Linked DNA regions of Homo sapiens: region 2 is linked to region 1. The links come from fine-mapping of genetic effects on gene expression. A gene starts in region 1. The other region holds a variant in brackets. All regions are shown on one strand. Distances are from middle to middle. Region 1 holds the start of OR2W3 (olfactory receptor family 2 subfamily W member 3). Region 2 overlaps TRIM58 (tripartite motif containing 58).

What was found. PIP is the estimated chance that this variant, and not a neighbour inherited with it, causes the effect.
Region 2: its variant is fine-mapped to the expression of OR2W3 in thyroid (GTEx, PIP 0.97).

The regions. Positions count from the first base shown.
Region 1 is chr1:247,888,199-247,903,678 of GRCh38, forward strand. It overlaps OR2W3 (olfactory receptor family 2 subfamily W member 3), which reads left to right and starts at 7,389. Exons shown (of 1, transcript NM_001001957.2): 1 at 7,389-8,333. The coding sequence starts at 7,389. The coding sequence ends at 8,333.
Region 2 is chr1:247,863,772-247,877,852 of GRCh38, forward strand. TRIM58 (tripartite motif containing 58) reads left to right here. Exons shown (of 6, transcript NM_015431.4): 3 at 934-1,164; 4 at 4,074-4,096; 5 at 4,192-4,292; 6 at 12,129-14,081. The coding sequence ends at 12,718. Among named protein-coding and RNA genes, the nearest start is that of TRIM58, 14 kb to the left of the region's middle. The variant G/A (reference allele first, on the strand shown) is at 9,258.

The DNA of each region.
Region 1 (15,480 bases):
ATTTATTTATTTTTTAACAAAGAAAAAATGTATTTATTGAGCATTCACTACAAAAACTAGTTTTTCTGTAGGCAGAGATCTTAATGATTTTTTTTAATTAATTTATTTATTTTTTCTTTTTTTATTTATTTTTTAATTATACTTTAAGTTTTAGGGTACATGTGCACATTGTGCAGGTTAGTTACATATGTATACATGTGCCATGCTGGTGCGCTGCACCCACTAACTCGTCATCTAGCATTAGGTATATCTCCCAATGCTATCCCTCCTCCCTCCCCCCTCCCCACCACAGTCCCCAGAGTGTGATATTCCCCTTCCTGTGTCCATGTGATCTCATTGTTCAATTCCCATCTATGAGTGAGAATATGTGGTGTTTGGTTTTTTGTTCTTGCGATAGTTTACTGAGAATGATGGTTTCCAATTTCATCCATGTCCCTACAAAGGACATGAACTCATCATTTTTTATGGCTGCATAGTATTCCATGGTGTATATGTGCCACATTTTCTTAATCCAGTCTATCATTGTTGGACATTTGGGTTAGTTCCAAGTCTTTGCTATTGTGAATAATGCCGCAATAAACATACGTGTGCATGTGTCTTTATAGAAGCATGATTTATAGTCCTTTGTGTATATACCCAGTAATGGGATGGCTGGGTCAAATGGTATTTCTAGTTCTAGATCCCTGAGGAATCGCCACACTGACTTCCACAATGGTTGAACTAGTTTACAGTCCCACCAACAGTGTAAAAGTGTTCCTATTTCTCCACATCCTCTCCAGCACCTGTTGTTTCCTGACTTTTTAATGATTGCCATTCTAACTGGTGTGAGATGATATCTCATAGTGGTTTTGATTTGCATTTCTCTGATGGCCAGTGATGATGAGCATTTTTTCATGTGTTTTTTGGCTGCATAAATGTTTTCTTTTGAGAAGTGTCTGTTCATGTCCTTCGCCCACTTTTTGATGGGGTTGTTTTTTTCTTGTAAATTTGTTTGAGTTCATTGTAGATTCTGGATATTAGCCCTTTGTCAGATGAGTAGGTTGCAAAAATTTTCTCCCATGTTGTAGGTTGCCTGTTCACTCTGATGGTAGTTTCTTTTGCTGTGCAGAAGCTCTTTAGTTTAATTAGATCCCATTTGTCAATTTTGGCTTTTGTTGCCATTGCTTTTGGTGTTTTGGACATGAAGTCCTTGCCCACGCCTATGTCCTGAATGGTAATGCCTAGGTTTTCTTCTAGGGTTTTTATGGTTTTAGGTCTAACGTTTAAATCTTTAATCCATCTTGAATTGATTTTTGTATAAGGTGTAAGGAAAGGATCCAGTTTCAGCTTTCTACATATGGCTAGCCAGTTTTCCCAGCACCATTTATTAAAAAGGGAATCCTTTCCCCATTCCTTGTTTTTCTCAGGTTTGTCAAAGATCAGATAGTTGTAGGTAAGCGGCGTTATTTCTGAGGGCTCTGTTCTGTTCCGTTGATCTATATCTCTGTTTTGGTACCAGTACCATGCTGTTTTGGTTACTGTAGCCTTGTAGTATAGTTTGAAGTCAGGTAGTGTGATGCCTCCAGCTTTGTTCTTTTGGCTTAGGATTGACTTGGCGATGCAGGCTCTTTTTTGGTTCCATATGAACTTTAAAGTAGTTTTTTCCAATTCTGTGAAGAAAGTCATTGGTAGCTTGATGGGGATGGCATTGAATCTGTAAATTACCTTGGGCAGTATGGCCATTTTCACGATATTGATTCTTCCTACCCATGAGCATGGAATGTTCTTCCATTTGTTTGTATCCTCTTTTATTTCCTTGAGTAGTGGTTTGTAGTTCTCCTTGAAGAGGTCCTTCACATCCCTTGTAAGTTGGATTCCTAGGTATTTTATTCTCTTTGAAGCAATTGTGAATGGGAGTTCACTCATGATTTGGCTCTCTGTTTGTCTGTTGTTGGTGTATAGGAATGCTTGTGATTTTTGTACATTGATTTTGTATCCTGAGACTTTGCTGAAGTTGCTTATCAGCTTAAGGAGATTTTGGGCTGAGACAATGGGGTTTTCTAGATAAACAATCATGTCGTCTGCAAACAGGGACAATTTGACTTCCTCTTTTCCTAATTGAATACCCTTTATTTCCTTCTCCTGCCTAATTGCCCTGGCCAGAACTTCCAACACTATGTTGAATAGGAGTGGTGATAGAGGGCATCCCTGTCTTGTGCCAGTTTTCAAAGGGAATGCTTCCAGTTTTTGCCCATTCAGTATGATATTGGCTGTGGCTTTGTCATAGATAGCTCTTATTATTTTGAGATACGTCCCATCAATACCTAATTTATTGAGAGTTTTTAGCATGAAGGGTTGTTGAATTTTGTCAAAGGCCTTTTCTGCATCTATTGAGATAATCATGTGGTTTTTGTCTTTGGCTCTGTTTATATGCTCGATTACATTTATTGATTTGCGTATATTGAACCAGCCTTGCATCCCAGGGATGAAGCCCACTTGATCATGGTGGATAAGCTTTTTAATGTGCTGCTGGATTCAGTTTGCCAGTATTTTATTGAGGATTTTTGCATCAATGTTCATCAAGGATATTGGTCTAAAATTCTCTTTTTTGGTTGTGTCTCTGCCTGGCTTTGGTATCAGAATGATGCTGGCCTCATACAATGAGTTAGGGAGGATTCCCTCTTTTTCTATTGATTGGATTAGTTTCAGAAGGAATGGTACCAGTTCCTCCTTGTACCTCTGGTAGAATTCAGCTGTGAATCCATCTGGTCCTGGACTCTTTTTGGTTGGTAAACTATTGATTATTGCCACAATTTCAGCTCCTGTTATTGGTCTATTCAGAGATTCAACTTCTTCCTGGTTTAGTCTTGGGAGAGTGTATGTGTCGAGGAATTTATCCATTTCTTCTAGATTTTCTAGTTTATTTGCGTAGAGGTGTTTGTAGTATTCTCTGATGGTAGTTTGTATTTCTGTGGGATCGGTGGTGATATCCCATTTATCATTTTTTATTGTGTCTATTTGATTCTTCTCTCTTTTTTTCTTTATTAGTCTTGCTAGCGGTCTATCAATTTTGTTGATCCTTTCAAAAAACCAGCTCCTGGATTCATTGATTTTTTGAAGGGTTTTTTGTGTCTGTATTTCCTTCAGTTCTGCTCTGATTTTAGTTATTTCTTGCCTTCTGCTAGCTTTTGAATGTGTTTGCTGTTGCTTTTCTAGTTCTTTTAATTGTGATGTTAGGGTGTCAATTTTGGATCTTTCCTGCTTTCTCTTGTGGGCATTTAGTGCTATAAATTTCCCTCTACACACTGCTTTGAATGCGTCCCAGAGATTCTGGTATGTTGTGTCATTGTTCTTGTTGGTTTCAAAGAACATCTTTATTTCTGCCTTCTTTTTGTTATGTACCCAGTAGTCATTCAGGAGCAGGTTGTTCAGTTTCCATGTAGTTGAGCGGCTTTGAGTGAGATTCTTAATCCTGAGTTCTAGTTTGATTGCACTGTGGTCTGAGAGATAGTTTGTTACAATTTCTGTTCTTTTACATTTGCTGAGGAGAGCTTTACTTCCAACTATGTGGTCAATTTTGGAATAGGTGTGGTGTGGTGCTGAAAAAAATGTATATTCTGTTGATTTGGGGTGGAGAGTTCTGTAGATGTCTATTAGGTCCGCTTGGTGCAGAGCTGTGTTCAATTCCTGGGTATCCTTGTTGACTTTCTGTCTCGTTGATCTGTCTAATGTTGACAGTAGGGTGTTAAAGTCTCCCATTATTAATGTGTGGGAGTCTAAGTCTCTTTGTAGGTCACTCAGGACTTGCTTTATGAATCTGGGTGCTCCTGTATTGGGTGCATATATATTTAGGATAGTTAGCTCCTCTTGTTGAATTGATCCTTTACCATTATGTAATGGCCTTCTTTGTCTCTTTTGATCTTTGTTGGTTTAAAGTCTGTTTTATCAGAGACTAGGATTGCAACCCCTGCCTTTTTTTGTTTTCCATTTGCTTGGTAGATCTTCCTCCATCCTTTTATTTTGAGCCTATGTGTGTCTCTGCACGTGAGATGGGTTTCCTGAATACAGCACACTGATGGGTCTTGACTTTTTATCCAACTTGCCAGTCTGTGTCTTTTAATTGGAGAATTTAGTCCATTTACATTTAAGGTTAATATTGTAATGTGTGAATTTGATCCTGTCATTATGATGTTAGCTGGTGATTTTGCTCGTTAGTTGATGCAGTTTCTTCCTAGTCTCAATGGTCTTTACATTTTGGCATGATTTTGCAGCGGCTGGTACCGGTTGTTCCTTTCCATGTTTAGCACTTCCTTCAGGAGCTCTTTTGGGGCAGGCCTGGTGGTGACAAAATCTCTCAGCGTTTGCTTGTCTGTAAAGTATTTTATTTCTCCTTCACTTATGAAGCTTAGTTTGGCTGGATATGAAATTCTGGGTTGAAAATTCTTTTCTTTAAGAATGTTGAATATTGGCCCCCACTCTCTTCTGGCTTGTAGGGTTTCTGCCAAGAGATCCGCTGTTAGTCTGATGGGCTTCCCTTTGAGGGTAACCCGACCTTTCTCTCTGGCTGCCCTTAACATTTTTTCCTTCATTTCAACTTTGGTGAATCTGACAATTATGTGTCTTGGAGTTGCTCTTCTCAAGGAGTATCTTTGTGGCGTTCTCTGTATTTCCTGAATCTGAACGTTGGCCTGCCTTGCTATATTGGGGAAGTTCTCCTGGATAATATCCTGCAGACTGTTTTCCAACTTGATTCCATTCTCCGCATCACTTTCAGGTACACCAATCAGACGTAGATTTGGTCTTTTCACATAGTCCCATATTTCTTGGAGGCTTTGCTCATTTCTTTTTATTCTTTTTTCTCTAAACTTCCCTTCTCGCTTCATTTCATTTATTTCATCTTCCATTGCTGATACCCTTTCTTCCAGTTGATCGCATCGGCACCTGAGGCTTCTGCATTCTTCATGTAGTTCTCGAGCCTTGGTTTTCAGCTCCTTCAGCTCCTTTAAGCACTTCTCTGTATTGGTTATTCTAGTTATACATTCTTCTAAATTTTTTTCAAAGTTTTCAACTTCTTTGCCTTTGGTTTGAATGTCCTCCCGTAGCTCAGAGTAATTTGATCGTCTGAAGCCTTCTTCTCTCAGCTCGTCAAAATCAATCTCCATCCAGCTTTGTTCTGTTGCTGGTGAGGAACTGCGTTCCTTTGGAGGAGGAGAGGCGCTCTGCGTTTTAGAGTTTCCAGTTTTTCTGTTCTGTTTTTTCCCCATCTTTGTGGTTTTATCTACTTTTGGTCTTTGATGATGGTGATGTACAGATGGGTTTTTGGTGTGGATGTCCTTTCTGTTTGTTAGTTTTCCTTCTAACAGACAGGACCCTCAGCTGCAGGTCTGTTGGAATACCCTGCCGTGTGAGGTGTCAGTGTGCCCCTGCTGGGGGGTGCCTCCCAGTTAGGCTGCTCGGGGGTCAGGGGTCAGGGACCCACTTGAGGAGGCAGTCTGCCCGTTCTCAGATCTCCAGCTGCATGCTGGGAGAACCACTGCTCTCTTCAAAGCTGTCAGACAGGGACATTTAAGTCTGCAGAGGTTACTGCTGTCTTTTTGTTTGTCTGTGCCCTGCCCCCAGAGGTGGAGCCTACAGAGGCAGGCAGGCCTCCTTGAGCTGTGGTGGGCTCCACCCAGTTCGAGCTTCCAGGCTGCTTTGTTTACCTAAGCAAGCCTGGGCAATGGCGGGCGCCCCTCCCCCAGCCTCGCTGCTGCCTTGCAGTTTGATCTCAGACTGCTGTGCTAGCAATCAGCGAGATTGCATGGGCGTAGGACCCTCCGAGCCAGGTGTGGGATATAGTCTCGTGGTGCGCCGTTTTTTAAGCCGGTCTGAAAAGCGCAATATTCGGGTGGGAGTGACCTGATTTTCCAGGTGCGTCCGTCACCCCTTTCTTTGACTGGGAAAGGGAACTCCCTGACCCCTTGCGCTTCCCAGGTGAGGCAATGCCTCGCCCTGCTTCGGCTTGTGCACGGTGCGCGCACCCACTGGCCTGCGCCCACTGTCTGGCACTCCCTAGTGAGATGAACCCGGTACCTCAGATGGAAATGCAGAAATCACCTGTCTTCTGCGTCGCTCACGCTGGGAGCTGTAGACCGGAGCTGTTCCTATTCGGCCATCTTCGCATGTATTTATTTTTATTTGTCTTAGTTTGGGAGTACTGTTTTGTTACCTCCACGTATGGATTTATATTAATTTGCGAGTACTGCTTTTTACCTGCACATACATGCTTATATCTATTTATATTAATTTGGGAGTACTGCTTTTTACCTGCACATACATACTTATATCTATTTATATTAATTTGGGAGTACTGCTTTTTACCTGCACATACATACTTATATCTATTTATATTAATTTGGGAGTACTGCTTTTTACCTGCACATACATGCTTATATCTATTTATATTAATTTGGGGGTACTGCTTTTTAGCTGCATGTATTGCACAGTGGCGAAGTCTTGGCTTTTAATGCATCCATCACCCAAACACCAGGATGGACCAAGTCTCCCTATATCCATCTGTAAGACTTGTGGTTTGTCTTATCAAATATGCTTTGCTTTGAATGTGATGTGGTATTAGAGTTGGAACGTGATAGAGGTTTCTGTACATATGCGTGAATTTTGCATTACAGTTGTAATATCTGTTACAAAGTTTTTTCAATCTCTTTTATCCTCTCAAGCAGTATATAGTACTTTGGAAGAAAAACCCATACACTCTATTTGTTCAATACCAGGCCCATTTAAAAGACAGAGAGAAAAAAAGAGATTTTATGTGTATTTTGCCTGTCTCTTACATTATTTATCTACTGAGGTAATTTTAAAATTAAATTAAATTAAATTCTGAGGTAATTTAAAAATTACCTCAGTAATGGTAACCCAATGAATGAGGTGTGTCTTTGAGACCAGTAATAGATAAAGTACTCTGTGTGTAAAGAGTATTTCCTAAATACTATTGATGGATTATTTTGAGGCTCCATTTTGAGTCCTTGAGGTTTTTGGCAGGAGCCTAGGGACTGGAGTCTCTAGAAAAATTCGTGGTTTGGCCACAGCAGGATTTGCCTTCACTTCACTGGATTTGGAGGCAGTGCTACTGGTGGTTTAGATTGCACACTCTCAGCTACATTGCCGGGGTTCAGAATCAGCTCTGTGTCTTCCTACATATCACAGTTTGCTCAACACACATGTGTTTCAGTTTCCTTTTCTATAAGTTGGGAGCTAATAATAATAGTGCAACTCCATATAACTGTTGGGGTTGAATGAATAAAATAAATATAAAAAGCATAGAAGAATGCTTAGCTTCTAGTAAGTTCTCCCTTAATATCAGCTGTTATTATTATTATTAGGATTGATATTTCTGTTCAGCAGCAGTAGAGATGGATGGAACCAATGGCAGCACCCAAACCCATTTCATCCTACTGGGATTCTCTGACCGACCCCATCTGGAGAGGATCCTCTTTGTGGTCATCCTGATCGCGTACCTCCTGACCCTCGTAGGCAACACCACCATCATCCTGGTGTCCCGGCTGGACCCCCACCTCCACACCCCCATGTACTTCTTCCTCGCCCACCTTTCCTTCCTGGACCTCAGTTTCACCACCAGCTCCATCCCCCAGCTGCTCTACAACCTTAATGGATGTGACAAGACCATCAGCTACATGGGCTGTGCCATCCAGCTCTTCCTGTTCCTGGGTCTGGGTGGTGTGGAGTGCCTGCTTCTGGCTGTCATGGCCTATGACCGGTGTGTGGCTATCTGCAAGCCCCTGCACTACATGGTGATCATGAACCCCAGGCTCTGCCGGGGCTTGGTGTCAGTGACCTGGGGCTGTGGGGTGGCCAACTCCTTGGCCATGTCTCCTGTGACCCTGCGCTTACCCCGCTGTGGGCACCACGAGGTGGACCACTTCCTGCGTGAGATGCCCGCCCTGATCCGGATGGCCTGCGTCAGCACTGTGGCCATCGAAGGCACCGTCTTTGTCCTGGCGGTGGGTGTTGTGCTGTCCCCCTTGGTGTTTATCCTGCTCTCTTACAGCTACATTGTGAGGGCTGTGTTACAAATTCGGTCAGCATCAGGAAGGCAGAAGGCCTTCGGCACCTGCGGCTCCCATCTCACTGTGGTCTCCCTTTTCTATGGAAACATCATCTACATGTACATGCAGCCAGGAGCCAGTTCTTCCCAGGACCAGGGCATGTTCCTCATGCTCTTCTACAACATTGTCACCCCCCTCCTCAATCCTCTCATCTACACCCTCAGAAACAGAGAGGTGAAGGGGGCACTGGGAAGGTTGCTTCTGGGGAAGAGAGAGCTAGGAAAGGAGTAAAGGCATCTCCACCTGACTTCACTTCCATCCAGGGCCACTGGCAGCATCTGGAACGGCTGAATTCCAGCTGATATTAGCCCACGACTCCCAACTTGCCTTTTTCTGGACTTTTGTGAGGCTGTTTCAGTTCTGACATTATGTGTTTTTGTTGTTGCTCTTAAAATTGAGACGGGGTCTCACTCTGTCACCTAGGGTAGAGTGCAGTGGTGCCACCATAGCTCCTTCGACTATTGGGCTTAAGCGATCCTCCCCCACCTCAGCCTTCCAAGTAACTGGGACTACAGGTGTGCATCACTGGCAGTGGGAATTGTGGCTTGTGGCTTTTCTGTCTTCTATGGAGACGGGGTCTTGCTGTGTTGACCAGGCTGGTCCCAAACTCCTGGCCTCATGTGATCCCCCTGCCATGGCCTCCTAAAAGTTCTGGGATTACAAGTGTGAGTCACTGCGACTGGCCAACATTATGTGATTTATGTGTGAACTATATAACACAAATCATCCCCAAAACCCATCATGATCTGTAAAGCAGCTGCAAAGAATGAAGTGAGACAAACAGTTGTAAAGATGAGTTTCCACCTACTTATACCAGAGTGCTAAGAGGAAATAACTCTTCTCAATCAGAGCTTTGCTTTGTTTGTTGTTGTTTGCTTTAAAGTCTAACACACCTGACATGTTTCAGTCAGAATGACCCCAAATGCATCACTGTTCTCCACGTGGTCCAAGTGCCTCTCTGTTTAGGGCCATCAAATCATGGAATGCAGCACAGTTTTATATTTTCTATATTCCCAATTCCTACCCAAACCTTTTCATGAAATCGTAGAGTTTGTTTTACCCTTTATCTGGTGTAAGATTCTGCATAAACCAAGAAGTGAACCTGTAAGTTATGATGCATGGGTTGTTTAAATCTTAAAGCATCATTCTTTCTCAGGCATGTTTTTTTCATTATTAGTAAGAAGAACCTGACATTGGTTTAGTCCCTTCTGTGTACCAGACGCTCCTAAGTCATGCAACCTCAGTATTTGTATGAGGTCAGCATGATTATCATTATTCCCATTTTATCTCCCTGGTCCTTGAGATCTGAAGGTTAAATCTTTTGCTCGAGGGGAACTGAACCAGGGTTTTTTCCAAGTTCTGTCAGACTCCCGATTCATATGGTTTCTATTGCATCATGAAATTTCAAAGAGCAAAAATCCTTAAGCATTTGGCACACAATGTCAAAGACCCTTTGGGGCTAAGGGGCATGACTGGCTACTGTTCCTTACACATTGCAGTCCTCAATGTGTCCCACTAACGTGCCCTCCAGTTATCTGAGGTCTTGTTCCAATGCAATTCCAATTCAGCTGGTGATAAGAGGGGTCTGAGTTTCTGCGACTCTGCAAACCTCCCAGGTGATGTCCCTACTTTGGGGACTCGGACTACATTTTAAGAACCCAGGAAGTATATCACCCCCTGCTCTTGTTCCGGGCATTTGGAGGGTGGACACATTCTGGAAAAAGTTGGGAGAGTGTTCATAGACCAAGGGCGAACACAAGGTGAGAGGGAGTGGTGTGAAAGGCCAGCTGAGGGGTGGTCCTCATTCCTCTGCCGTTGCTCCTGTGCTCGGCTCCCTCCTCCTCCACAAGTGTATTTCTGCGCTCTTTTGTATCCTCCTCACCTCCACACCTCACATCTAAAGTCACCAGCCCCAGGGCATTGTGTAAGTGTAAACAAACCAGAGCCCCAGAGAGGGGGATTCCTGTGCTTCCAGAGCACCCCCTCTGACTATTCAAGGATGCTGTTTGTAAGAAGTACTGATGTGGATGTGTAGTAGGAAGAGCCGCAGACAAAACTCCTCAGACACCGAGTTAGAGAAGGAAGGGGTTTATTCGACCAGGGGCATCGGCAAGACTCCTGTCTCAAGAGCCGAGCTCCCCAAGTGAGCAATTCCCGTCCCTTTTAAGGGCTCACAACTCTAAGGGGGTGCGCGTGAGAGGGTCGTGATCGATTGAGCAAGTAGGGGGTACGTGACTGGGGGCTGGTAATTAGATCGGAACAAAACAGGACAGGGATTTTCACAGTGCTTTTCTATACAATGTCTGTAATCTATAGATAACATAACCGATTATGTCAGGGGTCAATCTTTAACTACCAGGCCCAGGGTGTGGTGCTGGGCTGTCTGCTTGTGGATTTGATATTTGCCTTTTAGTTTTTACTTTTTTTTTCTTTGGAGGCAGAAATTGGGCATAAGACAATATGAGGGGTGGTCTACTCCCTTATTCCCCCCTTTGAGAGTCTCACTCAATAGTGGGAGTTCTCACTTTCATTTTTACTACCCATGTCTTCTGGCAAGACAGATCAATAGTGATTCATATAGTACACTTGTGCTGAAGCTTTTGGTGAACTAAGGTAGTGATGAAGCTTTTTATCATTTGAAGAAGTACAGGTAGCAAACAAAGGAGCAGTAAGTAGGTTCCTATTACTATTATAACTCTTATTATAAGAGTTTTAAATCCTCCTAGCTCTGGGAACCATTTTCTAAACATGGCCCCAGGATCAAATCCGTCACACTTGCATGGGCACGTGTGCCAGTTTTGTCATATCTCTAACTATGTCTTCAAATACTTGCCCTTGATTATCTATGTGTAGGCAGCAATTAATAAGGTTAAATTTCCTACAGACTTCTCCTTCAGCTGCTAGCAAGTAGTCAAGAGCCAATCTGTTTTGATAGATAGCATTTCTCATCTGAGTTTCTTGCTGGGTCAGAATGGTCAAGGCTCTGCCGGTTTTATTAGTGATTATTTTTAAGACAGCTTGTAACCATATGATTTGGTTGATCATGTACATGTGGGTCCGGTATCCTCATGAGCCGTCTTGTACCTAAGTAGCAGGCCCATAATATTGCACGATTCTCTTAGGGGGCCATTTATCATTTTTTCAATTTCTTATAGCTATGCTTCTCTTTTCATGGGAAGCATAGACAGGGAAGCCCAGGAGTTTGCCTGTTTTTATGGGCGGTAGGAAGAAAGATGGTTTAATAGTGCCAATAACACAACTACCTGCCTACTGGTCAGGTAATTTGGCATAAGCTCTATGCCTACATATCCAGTATAATCCAGTGGGGGCCGTCCAGTCCTGGTGGGACTCCAGGTGGGTCCACACGATCTGCAACTTTGGGAATTTATGAAATGGATTTCTCTCTGTGTGATTTGAACTCCACCAAGTGACTGTTTTTGTGGTACCATTATACAGTTTCTGTCTCCGACAACTAAGTCATCCTACAGGGTGAGTAAATTCTTTTCCTTCCCTAGCTATGCAATATTGTCCAATAATTGAGGCGTTTAGGACCTAGAAATTATCAGGGTGATTCTTTTGAGCCGGGAATTCATCAGGAACTGGGTCTGTAGGTACTAATTCTCGGGCTTCCCATGGCCATTGATCTCCCATTACAGTTCCTCCACATACATAATGTGAAGTGACATTGAGAGACTGGGCTACATGCTTGGCTAATTGCAAAAACAAATTTCATGTTTTTCCTGGAATTTCTGGTACTGGCACATTTAGTTCATCATAGAAAGTTTGAAACGCTGGCTCAGGAGAGCGTTTGTAAACTTCTCCTCGAACCAAGATATTTACTCAAGGATCCAGTCCGGCCCCGTCAATTCCTAAGGTCACACGCTCCTCTTTTTCCCAGCGAGGTTCAAGGGGCTTGGTTATTACTAGCTCTAAGGGGTTACATTGTCCCTTAGTACAGGAAGGGCCATTTTTTCCTTTCTGAAGGTGGACTGGATCCTTCTCATTTTTTTTTTTTATCCAAGTGGCCTAAAGGACACAAGACCAGTGTTTACATTTATTTCCACACAGCCCTAATTTATGACAGATGTACTTATTTTCTGCCGTATAGCCTCTTTTCTAATTAAGAGAACCACACCTTATTCCTAACTTATTACTATTAATGACAGCACAGGCATCAAATTTTAAGGTGACTTGTTTGGGCACCCCTTTTTCTTCTGTTTTGGCTAACACTTTACTCGTATCGTTTATGAGCCCCCACCAGTCCTCAGTCCTTAATCTTATTTTAAAAACTGTGGTCATGGGAGGCTCAGATGGGTCATAACACATATCAGATTGGTCATTTCCTGGGCTACATACCTTGTATAGAATAACATTATACAAACAAGTTCTTTTTAGAGTTCCAGTACACTTATAATAACCATAAAATAATAAGACTGTAGCAACCTTTTATCCTACCTCAGCGACTTGATGTATGCACTGGGAACAGCCCCAGTCTGAGGAAGGTCAGTTGAAGTCCTTACTGTACAAGTCCAAATTTTAAGGAAAATGAGTCCCGCGATGAGTTTCCTCATGCTTCAGCCATGCGTGGACCAGTCAGCTTCCAGGTGTGACTGGAGCAGGGCTGGTCGTCTTCTTCAGAGTCACTTTGCAGGGGTTGGCGAAGCTACTCCCATCCACATACAGCTCACAGTCTACTGATGTTTAAGGATGGTCTCAGAGGTTAGGCCTGCTAGAATAAACTGAGTCCAACACCTCTATACAGTTATGTTCAGCTGGGCTCTCTGATACCGGGAGCAAGGTGGTGGGGTTTAGGGTGTTGCAAACTTCAATGGTTATGTGGGGATTTTCACATAGCGAGCTTTGGTACTTGGTTAATCTAGCCTTTGTTAACCAATGATGTCCTTCTGTATTTATTAAAGTTACCACAGCATGGGGGGCCTTTATATCCAGGTTTTGCCTAAGGGTTAGTTTATCTGCTTCTTGTGCTAACAGGGCCCTTGCTGCTAGGGCCCTTAGACCTGGGGGCCAGGCTTTGGAAGCCCTGTCTAGTTGTTTTGAGAGATAGGCCACTGGCCTTGGCCAGGGCCCCACAGTCTGGGTTAAAACTTCAACTGCCATTTTTTCTCTTTCTGACACATAGAGCGTAGAGTTTTGTCAGGTCAGGTGGCCTCAGGGCTGGGGCTGACGTGAGTTTTTCTTTTAACTCATGAAAAGCTTGTTGCTGTTGGTTGTAATAGATGTAGTTTATCTAAACTACATTTTTCTTAACTGTCACCCACCAAAATATTGACTTAAATCCTGCAGCTGTTTGATTTCAAGCTTTAAATTGATCTGCTATTCTTCGTGGGACTCCAGTTGCATTTAAATAGACACGAGAGTCGAAAGACCCGTAAGGGGCTTCTCTCGCTTTACAGTGTCTTATTTTTTTTCCTTCTGGTTGATGAAATGCCAGGGTGAAAGGGATAGCCAATTGGACTAAAGCACAAGTGCCACTCCAGTTATTCAGCAGAGTGCCCAGTAAAGGTCCACCACAATACCACCACACATCCGCTCAGGGATGAACAAGGGCTGACTGATTGATAAGCTCTCGAAAATTCTTAAGCTCACTGCATCCTTTCAGGTATCCAAGGAATGCTAAGTTTCCTCCCTGTCATGAGAGACACGAAATGAACTTAGTGTTGGAAGATGGAAGCTGGATGGCCCTCGGGGGCTGACCCTCAGGGTGCTGGACTTTGGGATATAGCAGAGAGAGCTTGGCACGTCTTGTTACTCCAGACTGTAGAATCCTGGAAAAGAGCTACCATGCAGCCCACGCCTGGTCGACTGGAGGACCACCTTAGTGGAAAGGGGACAATCTGGGCCTCTGGTCTGCCATGTGCACGAGCATAACAATTGCTTTTGTTTAACGTGCAGATGGAATATTTGATCCATTTTAACTAGGCATTTGCATCGTGGTATCCTGTCTTAATTGCTAAAGTTTGTTTTAAGTCTTTAACTTCTATAATCCTCTAGTAAAATGAATGTATGGTTTTAGGAAATTACAAAAACTGGTTGGGGCAGTCCATCCTTGCTCTTTAGTGGTCCACAGAACATTGGACCAACTATGGCAGGGAAGCTCTACATCGGGGGGCAAGACTCCTGGTTGGCACTGGGGTGTTTATCGAAATCTCCCGGGATTAAATGGTCCTAGTTTACTAACGCCCAGTCTGAGGAGAGTCAGGGGGACAGAAGTGCTTTTCTGAAGTAGAGAGCTGTCTTTGACTTGGCACGTCCCCACAGGGTATAAAAGGGCAAGCATTAAATGCAATAGTTTGAGGCAAAATTGACTTGGTTATGTTAATAACTAGAGGGTCAGCAATAGAGCGCGGAAAGAAGAAAGAGTAATAGATGAAAAGCGTTAGATTTTTCTTAGCTTTAGTTTGGTAGGGTTTTCCTCTGGGACTATGGCCCACAACTCTGTGGCGGGGGTGGCACTTTCTTGACTGGGTGTGATGAGTCCATCCTTTTTTGCTGTATGAGCAGCTGTCTTGGTGGTTAGCAGCACAAGGTAGGGTCCTTCCTAGGCTGACTCGAGTTTTTCTTCTTTCCACCTTTCGATGAGAACGTGATCTTCAGGCTGGTGCTGGTTTACTGGAAATTCTGGGGGTAGTACCTGTGCTAAAAGACTTTTAGTTTTTTTTGCGAGAAAGGAAAGTGGAAGATAAACCAAGTATATAGTTTTTAAGAGATTGACCTTTTGTTTTAAATGTGGGGACCTTGGCAGTGGACTTTATAATACTTAGTGCCTTTTTACTGAGAAATTTCCTTTAGCACCTATTTTTATTAGTTTTTAAACCAAAGAAAACCAAATACCATTTTACGTTTAACAATGCTTCTCATATGATTTTTATACTAGATAAGCTAAATTTTATCTTTATATTAGTGTGTTATTAATGTTAAACCTAATTTTAATAAAACCTAGTAGACATTTATTTAATTTTTAATGTTTGACCATAAGGTAAGATTTTATAGACTCTTTTTAACCTTCTATAATTTTTGCTAAAGAGCAGGTTGGTGCTTTAAGAAAAACTTGTTATGCTTTTACTTTAATGTCCAGTTCACAGAAAAACTGGATGATACTTCTTTAACTTTAGCTAATATGTTTACACACATAATTTTCTTTATAACTAATGTTTTAAAACTTGCTTAAACCTTCAAAACAATAATTTTTTAAACTTTTTAATGTAGGTAAAAATGTACATTCTTATGCCTCATAATCCTTTTACTAAAGGTATATTTTACTTATACACCTTGGACATAAACTGTTTTTTTTTTCAATAGTTTTACATTCAGGAGGCCTAGTTACTTTTAAATTATATAACGTTTTTTGCATAAGTTC
Region 2 (14,081 bases), 25 kb before region 1:
CCTGGGACGAAGTATGTTCCTTAGGTCTATTCAGAAACTGAAGACGTGAGATTCAGGTAGAAATTGGGATTAATTCTCTGACGTGAACTCTGAAATCAGTGGCCTGAGCATCACTTAGTTCTTTCTTGGCTTTGTAGAGAATGTTAGGCTTATGGTTGTGTTCACTATTACCATATTATGAAACAGCATTCATATTTTCTCATCTCTCAGCCTTTTCTTATTCAAACAAACATTTCTTCATCATTCAGTTGTTTCTAGTGGTTCTAGCGACTGATCTAGTAGTAAATAGTAACTTCTGCTGTGTGACTGCTCTATGCTAATCACTGTTCTTGTAGTTTAATAGATATTTAGCTGTAATCCACATACTCCTCTTTTTCCCCACATTTTTTAAGAGATGGAGTCTTGCTCTGTTACCCAGGCTGAAGTGCAGTGGTGCAATCACAGCTTACTGCAGCCTCGAGCTCTTAGACAAGTGATCCTCCCACCTCAGCCTTGTGGGTAGCTGGGACTACAGGGCTTACCACCATGCCTGGTCGGTTCATTTTAATTTTTTTAGAGATGGGGTCGCATTTTGCTTTGTTACCCAGGCTGGTCTTGAACTCCTGACCTCAAGCACTCCTCTTGCCTCGACCTCCCCAAAACCTCACATTTTGTATATGGTACTGAAACTTCAGTATAAAAGTGCCTTGCCCCCAAGCCTGTGGCAAAATGGGAACTCCAGTCCAACAGTATTTTTTAAACTTAATTTGAAAACTCTCCTGGGCTACTTCTTATATGAATGGACTCCAGTCTGTGCATGTTGTTAGGATGCAACCAGTGAGTCCACAGAGTTACGGAGCCCGGGGAAGTCTGGACATTACCTTCTCCAGCACTGTCCTGTACATGGCTGCTGGAGGCCAAGCACTGACGATGTGATCCACGGTGTCACCTCAGGAGAAAGTGGAAATGCAGAGGCAGCGCTTCAGATTGGAGTTTGAGAAGCATCGTGGCTTTCTGGCCCAGGAGGAGCAACGGCAGCTGAGGCGGCTGGAGGCGGAGGAGCGAGCGACGCTGCAGAGACTGCGGGAGAGCAAGAGCCGGCTGGTCCAGCAGAGCAAGGCCCTGAAGGAGCTGGCGGATGAGCTGCAGGAGAGGTGCCAGCGCCCGGCCCTGGGTCTGCTGGAGGTGAGGCCGGGTGCCAGAAAAGCAGGCAGATGTGAGACTCAGGTGACAGAGACTAGTACAATGGCTTTCAGAGACAAACACTTTGGCGTTTATGTTCTTTAGGAAAAGGGCACCCTCAAATTTACTCAGAAGGCAGCTTAAACACCCTAGAATTTACTCAGAAGCCATTCCTGGCATCAGAATCATGAGATTCTAGAGAATCATATAGTTTGAGTCTGGCATGGTGGCACATGCCTGTAGTCCCAGTTATTAGGGAGGCTGAGACAGGAGGATCGCTTGGGCCAAGGAAATCGAGACCTTCCTGGGCAACATAGCAAGACCCTGTCTCAAAAAACAAACAAACAGCATATAGTTTGTTTTAAGGACTAAAGAATTCTTAAAATTAATGATTTCTGAAAACTTAAACAGCTAGGGAAAGGACAAGCTACACTCTGCTGGCTGAGAAGTAATTCCTAAAACCTCAGAGTCAGTTTGTCCATGATAGCATTGCTGTTTTTTAGGGATGGCTAGCACAGAAAGTCTGCATAATACATTTCAGTGTCACTGGCCAGAAGGATGAATAATGATTTAAATTGTCCAGCTTGAAATTGTTATATTGGATTGTAAAGCAAACACTGATTTCCTGGCCCACATTGCATGCCCGTTCCAGGCATGGCGAGGAGGGATTACGTGGACTCCCGTGCAGCTTCCTCCCAGTCTGTTTGGGATTAGAGAGCAGAAAGACGAGTAAGAGTGAAAGGAAATCTTTGTTTTTAATCCTCTGTGAGGCATCATATCCCAAGTGAACAGGGAAAGCCAAAGTTGTTGATAGATCCATGTTTTCTTGGTAGAACCAATGGCAACAGAAATTTATCTGGACCGACTCCTATCTCCTCCCCAGTGACTCACGCAGGGGATTCTAAACTAAGTGATGCATGTTCTCATTTAAAAGCTGACCCACGGATTCCACCTTTTCTGACTCAGTTCTAGGCACTGAAAGTACCATGAATATAAATAATCCTATTAACTGTCTGTATAATATTTGCAAGTACAATGACTAAACAGGACTGATTATGAGGCAGGGGACCATTAGATGAATTTATAAAGCCATTTAATTTGTCTCATTTTATCTTATATATATTAAATTTATATTTTATTATTATTGCTATGTTCATTTCCTTGTTAGCAAACTAAGAGTCAGAAAGGAATTAATTTTCCAAATAGCAGAGAGCAAAATACAAGAACTTTGACGGTTTCTTTTCTTTTGTTTTTTTGAGACAGAGTCTCGCTCTGTTGCCCAGGCTGAGTGCAGGGTGCAGTGGTGTGATCTTGGCTCACTGCAACCTCTGTCTCCTTGGCTCAAGCGATTCTCCTGCCTCAGCCTCCTGAGTAGCTGGGATTACAGGCATGTGCCACCGCACCTGGCTAATTTTTTTTTTTGCGTTTTTACTAGAGATGGGGTTTTGCCATGTTGGCCAGGCTGGTCTTGAACTCCTAACCTTAGGTGATCCGCCCACTTTGGCCTCCCAAAGTGTTGGGATTAAAGGCGTGAGCCCCTGTGCCCGGCTTGACAATTTCAACAATAGTATTTATTGCTCTGCCTGCCTTGGCCTCCCAGAGTGCTGGGATTGTAGGCATGAGCCACCCCGCCTGGCATGGGAGGATATATTCTTAAATAAGGTATCTTATCTATCTATTTTTCTAAAAGGGCAGGATCTCACTCTGTCACTCACGCTGGAGTGCAGTGGCTCAATCATAGCTCACTGCAGCCTCAGTCTCCTAGGATCAGGTGATCCTTGTGCCTCAGCCTCCCGAGTAGCTGGGACTAAAGGTGTGCACCACCACGCCCAGCTAATTTAAAACAAATTTTTAGTAGAGATGAGGCTTGGTTGTGTTGCCCAGGCTGTATATTTTTATACTTTCCTTTCCCTTTCTTCCCTGGTACTAATAAGCTACATTTTACCCCTGAAGGCCAAGACCAAGGCCTGACATTCCCATACAGGGTAAAGCAAATTATTCCCCTGCTTTTATGTCATTAAAACTTATCTGACTGGCAACTGTTTTTAAGGGGAGAGGGGAAATGTATCCCAAATACAATTATTAATATAATAAATGTATCACAGATATATTTATTTAATAATCTACTTTGAGAAAATAATGTTACTAGTTATTAAAGGCTTCCTTTATTAATCTATTTAGATAACCTCCTCATAGGAATAGCTCTGGTACGTTGGTTCAGAGAATTAGGAATTTATAATTCCTATAAAGATATTTAGGGAAACATTTTGTGTCTTTATTTGAGGAACCTATCCATGCCCCTCAAATAAATTCTATGAGTACTTAGGATCTATTTTATCCTGTTCCGTCTGAATTACATGCAGAATGTTACTCTGTTACAATATCCAAGTAGCAGAATTATTAATTCAGAAGATAATTAAATTGATAGGTGTTGCAGGAATTAACCTAAACTTTGTATAGCTTTAAAGAAAAGAGATTTGTCTGAGTGTGGTGACTCACGCCTGTAATCCCAGCACTTTGGGAGGCTGAGGTGGGTGGATCACCTGAGGTCAGGAGTTCGAGACCAGCCTGGCCAACATGGTGAAACCCCATCTCTACTGAAAATACAAAAAAATAAAAAAAATTAGCCAGGCGTGGTGGCGGGAGCCTGTAATCCCAGCTACTTGGGAGGCTGAGGCAGGGAGGTGGAGGTCGCAGTGAGCCGAGATTGCGCCATTGCACTCCAGCAGCCTGGGCAACAAGAACGAAACTCCATCTCAAAAAAAAAATAGAAAAGAGATTTATTGTCCCCTATAATTTTATCTCAATAATGTTTTGCAGTAGTTTCTAAGGAAATTTTTATGGGGTCTTCAGTCTGACTGTGAAAAGCAGTTCAGAGTCCAACTCACACTGTGTTTTTCTTTCCTTTTCAGGGTGTGAGAGGAGTCCTGAGCAGGTATGTGTGCTTTCTGAATTGGTGAAGGGATTGGGAGAGGCAGAGGAGCTGGTGGAGAACCCTGCTGACTTCTGTGGTTTCTGTGCTCTTCCCAGAAGTAAGGCTGTCACAAGGCTGGAAGCAGAGAACATCCCCATGGAACTGAAGACAGCATGCTGCATCCCTGGGAGGAGGGAGCTCTTAAGGAAGTTCCAAGGTAGTTGCATCTTAGAGACTGGGAATTAGGCTGCCTGGGGTTTGAAGAAGTTCCAAGGTAGTTGCATCTTAGAGACTGGGAATGAGGCTGCCTGGGGTTTGCCTCGTATTGTGGTTTGTCACTATGCCAGTCAGCTGCAGTGACCAACAGAACCTAAAGTCTTAGTGGCCCAGATCAGCAGAAATTTATTTTGAGAGTGTGCTGTTGGTTTGTTCCTAGGTGTGGGGACTTCTGTGCCACATCTTCTCACTCTGGTACCCATACTGACAGAGCTCTACCTCCCTCTTGGTGCTGGGAGCCATAGAAAAGGGCAGGGTTATTGAAGAGATGGGGGAAGAAGTTCTCTTCCAGAGTCAATACAACACATCACTTCTGGTCACCAAAATGTGTGGGGATTTCTCTCCGCAAACAGCCAATCAGTTCTCCAGCAGATACTCCAGCCAGATGTCCTTCCATGCAATTTGATTTTGACACTATCTATCTGGAGATAGCACCAGGTTCCCCGGGTTGAGGGCTTTGTCCCACAAGACTGACCCCACTTCAGATGCTGGTCACAAGCACAGGTTGTGGTCTGTGATTCTGACCAACTGACTGTAAACTGGGGTTCCCACAACCCTCTTCTTGAGTTCACTTAATTTCCTGAAACAGCTGACAAAACTTAGGGACACATATTTACTCATTTATTATAAGGGCGTTACAGAGGCTAGAGATGAACAGATGGAAGAGATTCTTAGGGCGAGGTTTGTGAGAAGGGGTACGGAGCTTCCACGCCCTTTCTAGGCCTGCTACCTTTGGAACCTCCGTGTGTTCAGTGATCTGGAAGTCCTCAGGACTCAGTTCTTTTTTTTGTGTGTGTGATGAAGTCTTACTCTGTCGCCCAGGCTGGAGTGCAGTGGCGCCATCTCAGCTCACTGCAACCTCCACCTCCCATGTTCGAGCGATTCTCCTGCCTCAGCCTCCCGAGTAGCTGGGATTACAGGCACATGCCACCATGCCTGGCTAATTTTTATATTTTTAGTAGAGACGGGGTCTCACCATGTTAGCCAGGCTGGTCTCGAACTCCTGACCTCAAATGATCTGCCTGCCTCGGCCTCCTAAAGTGCTGAGATGACAGGCGTGAGCCACTGTGCCTGGCCAATGAACTCAGTTATTTTGGGTTTTTATGGAAGCACTATGTAGACGTGATTGATTAGATCATAGGCCATTGGTTTACCAACCCACCCTTAAGCCCCTCTCCCTCTTCAGAGGTGGGGGGGGGTGAGGCGTGAAGGACTGAAAGTTTCAAGCCTCTAATCACATGGTTGGTTCCCCTGGCAACCACACCCAGTGGGAGGCTTTCTGGGTAATCACCAACCACAATTCATCTTATTAGCTTACAAAAGACACTCTTGTATTTCTGGAAATTTCAAGGATTTTAAGAACTGTATGTCAGTAAACAGGATATAGACCAAATACACACTTCACAGTATCATAGGCATGGTGAATGTAGACCAAATATATACTTCCCAGTGTCATAGGTATGGTGCCTCCTGCACTGTAGACCAAATACGTACTTCACAGTATCATAGGCATGGTGACTCATGCACTCCTCTTAAAGGTACCCATGCTGAATTAGAGCATCTGGCCTTCCTGAGATTTCATGGCTAAGTCAAACTATCAAGGAGACAGTGTAGGGGGCAAGGGAAAACTTTCCCCTTTCCCTATGAATGTTTGCTGAAAATCAACTGACCAAAGACAAATAGGAACAAAGGCATAGAAAAAGTCTAACATTCATAGCACAGTGGAATCGCAGGAGAGTAATGACCCAATAACGCAGTGGGATACAGATGCTTATATACCTTTCTTTATTGGAGGAAAGGGAGATGGGGAGGTGTGGATGATTTTAGGGAGATAGTAAATGATTTTTTGGAGGATTCATTGGGCTTGGAGTGCATACAGTGGCTTGGGACAAAGTGTTGAAAAGTAGACAGTGGTTTGTGACTAAAGTCTGTCCAGGTGTATTGATAGACTTGTCTGTCTTCCTGCAATATGAGCTAAATTAATTAAAATGCAGGGACTTCAGGCAGATAAATGAGTGTTAGAATAAAGCTTCTTACAGTGTGTGATGGTCTCCAAGGGCCTTTAATTTAAAATAATGGGCATACCAGGGTGCCATATTTTAGGGTAAAATTCCCTGGTCTCCTTCCGTGGGAGAGTGCACCATGCCCAGAAAAATTAGGATTGGTATATTCATGAGCAGTATCAGAGTCACGGCCACCCATAGAGCCTGCACCACCATGCCCAGAAGAACGAGGATTAGTATATTCATGAGCAGTATCAGAGTCACGGCCACCCATAGAGCCTGCACCACCACGCCCAGAAGAACGAGGATTAGTATATTCATGAGCAGTATCAGAGTCACGGCCACCCATAGAGCCTGCACCACCACACCCAGAAGAACGAGGATTAGTATATTCATGAGCAGTATCAGAGTCACGGCCACCCATAGAGCCTGCACCACCACGCCCAGAAGAACGAGGATTAGTATATTCATGAGCAGTATCAGAGTCACGGCCACCCATAGAGCCTGCACCACCACGCCCAGAAGAACGAGGATTAGTATATTCATGAGCAGTATCAGAGTCACGGCCACCCGTAGAGCCTGCACCACCACGCCCAGAAGAACGAGGATTAGTATATTCATGAGCAGTATCAGAGTCACGGCCACCCGTAGAGCCTGCACCACCACGCCCAGAAGAACGAGGATTAGTATATTCATGAGCAGTATCAGAGTCATGGCCACCCATAGAGCCTGCACCACCACGCCCAGAAGAACGAGGATTAGTATATTCATGAGCCGTATCAGAGTCACGGCCACCCATAGAGCCTGCACCACCACGCCCAGAAGAACGAGGATTAGTATATTCATGAGCCGTATCAGAGTCACGGCCACCCATAGAGCCTGCACCACCACGCCCAGAAGAACGAGGATTAGTATATTCATGAGCAGTATCAGAGTCACGGCCACCCATAGAGTCTACATTTGGTTAGACTATGGGCTTAAAACTGTAGGTCATCTCTTATTAGCTGATATGAGTAACGTTACTTCCAGTAAATTTACATTTCCTTGCTTATAAAATGCTAAAAATAAATTGCTTGGAGGACAAAATGAAACATTTGAAAGCACCCCACCTCCTAAAAGTAATCAATATGAAAGCACTGCAAAGTTATCAATTAGCAAGAAGTTTGGTTTAATTTATTGGCTGAGAATTTGATGAGTTGCTTGAATTAGTGAGTCAATAAAGCCAAAAATATTGTCAGTTATTTTCATGTAGGAATAAGCAGTGTCACAAAAAATTAGTGTGTTTAGTCTGATTGTATTATTCTTTAAAACAGTATAGATTCAGTATTGTTTACAATTTCATTTTAAAATCTAATTTATCCCAAGTAATGAAAACTATGTCTAAATAGTGACTTCACTACTTAGAGGGAAAGAGTGTAAAGTCCCTTAATGAGAAAACCCATCTCTGCAGCATAGTACCCACGTTCTCCTGGGTAGATGAATGTATGCTAAATGCCCAACTTGATTAAAATCGTCATGGCACCCTCAGACTCAGCAACCTCATATCCATATTTGTTTTTATGGAATGAAATCATTCAAAATGTGTGATTAATTTTATCTCACCCATTCTTTTAAACATTGGAATATATCATTCAACAACAACAACAAAATACTCTACAATCCGTAGCTTTGTGTTGCAGATATGTACTTCACCAAAATACACAGGCTGTAAGTGGCTGACACAGAATATTGAAGAAAATCAAAAAGAGTATGCAAAGGGTAATGAGAAGTTCTAGTTTTGAATAAGGTGACCAGGAAAGACCCCGCCCTGCAGGGGATAACCCAGCAAATATATGATCTGGAAGAAAGCATTCAGGCAGCAGAAATGAGCGCCAAGGCCTGACGTGGAGGATGGCAGGTGTGTTCCAGGAGCTGTGAGGATGTCAGTGTGAGGACTCTGTGGCAGAGTAAATGACAGGAGGGTCGGAGAGACCAAGAAAGGGCTAGATAGGCAGGCCATGCTGAGCATGATACTTTATCCCTGAGCGAAATAGGACATAGTTGAAAGTTGTACCTAGAAAAATAGTTTGATTGGACTAATGTTTTATGAGGATCACTCTATATGCTTTCTTGTAAGTAAATTACAGAGAGGAGAAGATTGACATGGGAAAAGCAGTTAAGGGTCTTTGCAGTAATTTGATGAGAGATGATTATGTGTTGGAATAGATGTTATTACGGAAGGTGCCGCAAGATGGACAGATTTTTGTTATATACTGAAGGCAGAGCTGTTAAGATTTGCTGTTGGATTATATATGATGTGCTATAAACAGGAAGAGCCATGAATGATTCCAAGGTTTTGGATCTTGCGAACTGGCAAAATGTGATTGCCACTTATATTGATGAGGAAAGCGACAGTTGAAGCAGAAGAAGGGCACAGGGTTTTGGATATGTGGATGTTGCGATGAGTGCTAAATATTCAAATGTTGCTATCAAGTGGGCAGATGAATGTACAATAGGGAGTTTCAGGGTAAAGTTCAAAGCTAAGCACATGCATTGGGAATCAGTCAGCATATGAATGGAATTTTATCAAAGCAATGAACCAGCCAGCACCCGGGTAGATAGGGAGTGAGGTGAGAGAGAGAGAAGAAGTCCAAGTCTTGGGACTATAGGTTTCTCCAGTGGTGGTGGTGGAGGAGAAGAGAACAGCAAAGAGGATCAAGGAGTAGTGAGCAGTGAGGGAAGGGAAACATGGATGAGTGTTACCTTTGGAAAAGGGAGATTTTCCAGCACAAGTAGATTCTCAGTGTTGAGAGATACAGAAAAATCATTGAAGATGAACTCTGGGCCGGGCGCGGTGGCTCACGCCTGTAAATCCCTGCACTTTGGGAGGCCGAGGCGGGCAGATCACCTGAGGTCAGGAGTTC[G/A]AGACCAGCCTGATCAACCTGAGGAAACCTTGTCTCTACTAAAAATACAAAATTAGCCAGGCGTGGTGGTGCATGCCTGTAATCCCAGCTACTCGGGAGGCTGAGGCAGGAGAATCACTTGAACCCGGGAGATGGGGGTTGCAGTAAGCCAAGATCATGCCATTGAACTCCAGCCTGGGCAACAAGAGCAAAACTCCATCTTAAAAAAAAGACAAACTGACAAGTAACCATTCATCAACACGGAGGTCCCTGGGAAGATGGACATGCGCAGTTTGGTTGGGGTATGGTCACATCATGATGAAGAATTGAGTTTAGGAGAGAAGGGGTAGGGAGAGGAATGGGATACAGACCATATCAAAAGCCATTTCACAGATCTCTTTTGTTAGAAATGAAGCAGACCACTGTGCCGGAAGAGGAATGGCTTGGGAATACATGACCTGTTAGATTGTGTTAAATGCACAATCCATGGAGACCTACCTTTCAATCTCTGTTATTTACCTCTAGAGTTTGGGAAGACCACATAAACTCTTTGACTCTGAATCTACTCTTGTGTAATGTAGGGATGACAATGGTGACCCTCAGGGTGGTTACATAATAAAAATAATGCAATGCGCAGTTACGTGACCACTCAGGTTGGGTATCAATAAAAATTCACTAGACCGGGCGTGGCAGCTCACGCCTGTAATCCCAACATTTTGGGAGGCTGAGGCGGATGGATTGCTTGAACCCAGGAGTTCGAGACCAGCCTGGGCAACATGGCAAAACCCCTTCTCTACAAAAAAATACAGAAAACTAGCTGGGCATGGTGGTGTGTGCCTTCCCAGCTACTCAGAGGGCTGAGGTCAGGGGATGGCTTGAGTCTGAGAGGTGGAGGCTGCAGTGAGCTGTGATTGCACCACTGCACTCCAGACTGGGCAACAGAGCGAGACTCCGTTTCAAAAAAAAAAGTAGTTCACTGTAAGTGTTTAAAGGCAAATAAGTATAGTGGTAGTGGTAGTAGCAGTAGCAGTAGCAGTAGCAGTAGAAACAGTATTTGTTCTGATATTAAAAATCAAACTATATTAACATGTTAGTCTGATTTTGCATTGCTATAAAGAAATACCTGAGGCTGGGTAATTTATTAATATAAGGAAATATGCTTTATTTTGGCTCATGGTTCTGTAGGCTGTACAGGAGTCATGGTGCTGGCACCTGTTTCTGGTGAGGCCTCAGGACACCTACAGTCATGGTGGAAAGCAAAGGAGGAGCCAGCGTATCACATGGCAAGAGGGAAGCAGTGAAGTGGGGAGGCCCCAGGTTCCTCTTAAACGACCAGCTCTTGCATGAACGGATAAAGAACTCACTTATCACCAGTGGGATGGCACTAAGTCATTCATGGGGGATCTGCACCCATGATCCAGCACCCCCCACTAGGCCCCACCTTCAACATTGGGAATCACATTTCAACATGAGACCGGGAGGCGATACACATCCAAACCATATTATTTATTAACTTACTACTTATAAGCAATGCTAATAAGGAAATGCACTGAATATTTTACATCCCCCCTTCACTGAGGTTTCATATCTAGATGTATTTATTTATTATGTATATGGGTCAAATGTCTCATCAATCTCACTGGGACTTCAGAGTATCAGTATTTTTTATTGTTATATAACGCATAACTACAAGCTTATGTGCTTAAAGCCATACCATTTAGTAGCTCATGGTTCTGAAGACCAGACATCCAAGTGGGATCAGCTGGCTCCTCTGCTTAGGTTTTCTCAAGGCCCAAATATGGGTGTTGGCCAGGCCAGGCCAGGCTTCTGTGTAGGTCGGGGGAAGAACCTTACCTCCAACCTTATTCAGGTTGTTGGCATAATACAATTCTGTGCAAATGCGGTACTGAGATTCCTGTTTTCTTGCTGGCTGTTGGTTGGGGGCTATTCTCAGCTCTGGAGATCACTCTCAGCTCTAGAGGTCACTCGTTTGTCTCTTCATGTGACCTTTCCATTTTCAAAGCCAGCAAAGAGATATCAAATCCACATCTTATTGACCTTTCCTGCTGCCACCAACCCAATAGCCAGAGAAAACTTTCTGATTTTACAGGACTTGTGGGATTTGATTAGACGCACCTTGATAATCTCTCTCTTGTCATATAGTGTAACATACTCATGAGGCTAACACCAGGGTGTGAAGGTCATGGGGTCCATCTTAGAATTCCGCCTACCACAGTAATATAACTTTGGAAGTAGTGGATTTAATATTAATAAAATTCTATAGATTTTTAAGAAAAAAATTCCTAAGGGGTTTATAAATTTTATGTTAAATGCAGAAGATCCTCCTAAGTGCACTCAAATGCTTTGGATGTAAGCCAGACATGGTGGTGTGCACCTGTAGTCCCAGCTGCTGGGGAGGCAGACACGGGAGGATTGCTTGAGTCCAGGAGTTTGAGGCTGTAGTGTACCACGGCTATGCCCATGAATAGCTCTGCACTCCAGCCTGGGCAACATAGCAAGACCCCGTCTCTCTGTCTCTCTCTCTCTCTCTCACGCACACACACACACACAAATGCTTTAGATGTAAATGAAAGGAAACTAAATGATAATTCACTTGGTTTGTCGTCATCAATAGTTGTTTTTTTTTGGGAAAGTTAAAGAGTTCTGGGTTACGCAGAGGTAACAGTGGAATATACCAGAAAGTTATAAAGAATAAGAATAATAAAGTAATAAAGAAGATTTCACCTGTAAGGTGAAATACTGATTTGTTTTCTCTAGGAGTTAATAGAGAGAGAAAAGTGAGGAACTGTGGGACTATTCTTTTCAGTGGTTTCCTAAGTTTCTACCAGTCCTTTCTTTCCTTTCACCTGGTCCACCACATTCTTTCCGCAGTGGATGTAAAGCTGGATCCCGCCACGGCGCACCCGAGTCTGCTCTTGACCGCCGACCTGCGCAGTGTGCAGGATGGAGAACCATGGAGGGATGTCCCCAACAACCCTGAGCGATTTGACACATGGCCCTGCATCCTGGGTTTGCAGAGCTTCTCATCAGGGAGGCATTACTGGGAGGTTCTGGTGGGAGAAGGAGCAGAGTGGGGTTTAGGGGTCTGTCAAGACACACTGCCAAGAAAGGGGGAAACCACGCCATCTCCTGAGAATGGGGTCTGGGCCCTGTGGCTGCTGAAAGGGAATGAGTACATGGTCCTTGCCTCCCCATCAGTGCCTCTTCTCCAACTGGAAAGTCCTCGCTGCATTGGGATTTTCTTGGACTATGAAGCCGGTGAAATTTCATTCTACAATGTCACAGATGGATCTTATATCTACACATTCAACCAACTCTTCTCTGGTCTTCTTCGGCCTTACTTTTTCATCTGTGATGCAACTCCTCTTATCTTGCCACCCACAACAATAGCAGGGTCAGGAAATTGGGCATCCAGGGATCATTTAGATCCTGCTTCTGATGTAAGAGATGATCATCTCTAAAATTCTGTTCCCAAGATGCAGTCCTAGCGTAGCGAACGTTCCTGGAGTGGGGTGAAGGATATCAATATACTAAGTTTTAACAGATACCCCATTTAGGTCAGCACTTGATTCGTTGTTGCTGTGAAATATGTCCATGGGACAAAAGAGGGAATATGAAATATTTGCATATGGGAAGATTATAGAGCATAATAATTTTGTAAATGGAGCAATCTCAACCTCTATTTCTAGATCACATTTTCTTGATGTCTTCCTTCAAATTAATGACCTTGGATTACATAAGGATTTCTATGCATTCATTATAATTTGTTATTCCTTTCAATATCCTTGTATTTCAAATCTTCCATATAAGAATTAGACATGGCAATTCTTAAATTGATTCAGAATGGTCTGATACTATTCCAGTATCACCTCCTTAATTCTGTTTCTCCTCGTTTTCCTGATTTTCCTTCTCATTCTCTCCTTCCCCGCTCTGTCTCTCTCTCCCTGTCACTCTCTCTCTCTTGTTCCTTATTTTTTGTTTCTTACCTCTTACTGTTTAACCTGTTGCTTCCTTCTGGATTAATACATTTAGAGCCATTCCTTTATATGGTCACATTTCCTATGACTTTACTCAATTACTTTTAAAATCCTTTCTATTCTGAGACTAATTTTTAAGAATTACAAAGCTCATTCTTCTGAATCTAATATCACTAACTCCTAGACTTTTTCCGTTTTCTTTGGATACACTTTAAGTAGGAATTTATCAGAATTTTCATTCAACTCGTTCTTTAATGCAGATATTTACTAGTTATAAGACCTTAAGGCTGGGTGCAGTGGCTCACGCCTGTAATCCCAGCACTTTGGGAGGCTGAGGCGGGTGGATCACAAGCTCAGGAGTTCAAGACCAGCCTGGCCAACATGGTGAAACCCTGTCTCTACTAAAAAAAAAAAAAAAATAGAAAAATTAGCTGGGCATGGTGGCAGGAGCCTGTAATCCCAGCTATTCTGGAGGTGGAGACAGGAGAATTGCTTGAACCCTGGAGGCGGAGGTTGCAGTGAGCCAATATCTCACCACTGTACTCCAGCCCAGTGCGAGACTCCATCTCAAAAAAGAAAAAAGACCTCAAACAACACTTCTCTCTCTCTTTTAGCTGCTTGTTATGGTTCCTATACATGGAACAATTATACTGGCCTCACTGTGTTATGGTAAATATTTAAGGTCATATTTGATATTGCTGGTTTGAATTCAGCTTTTCCATTTAAATACATTATAATGATGATGATGAAATCATGATAATATTTAACTTATTTTTAAAGTATATTCTGTACCTTTCCAACAAAAAGGTTAAAAGTCATTGAAGGCTAACCTTACTGCCTTCTTTGT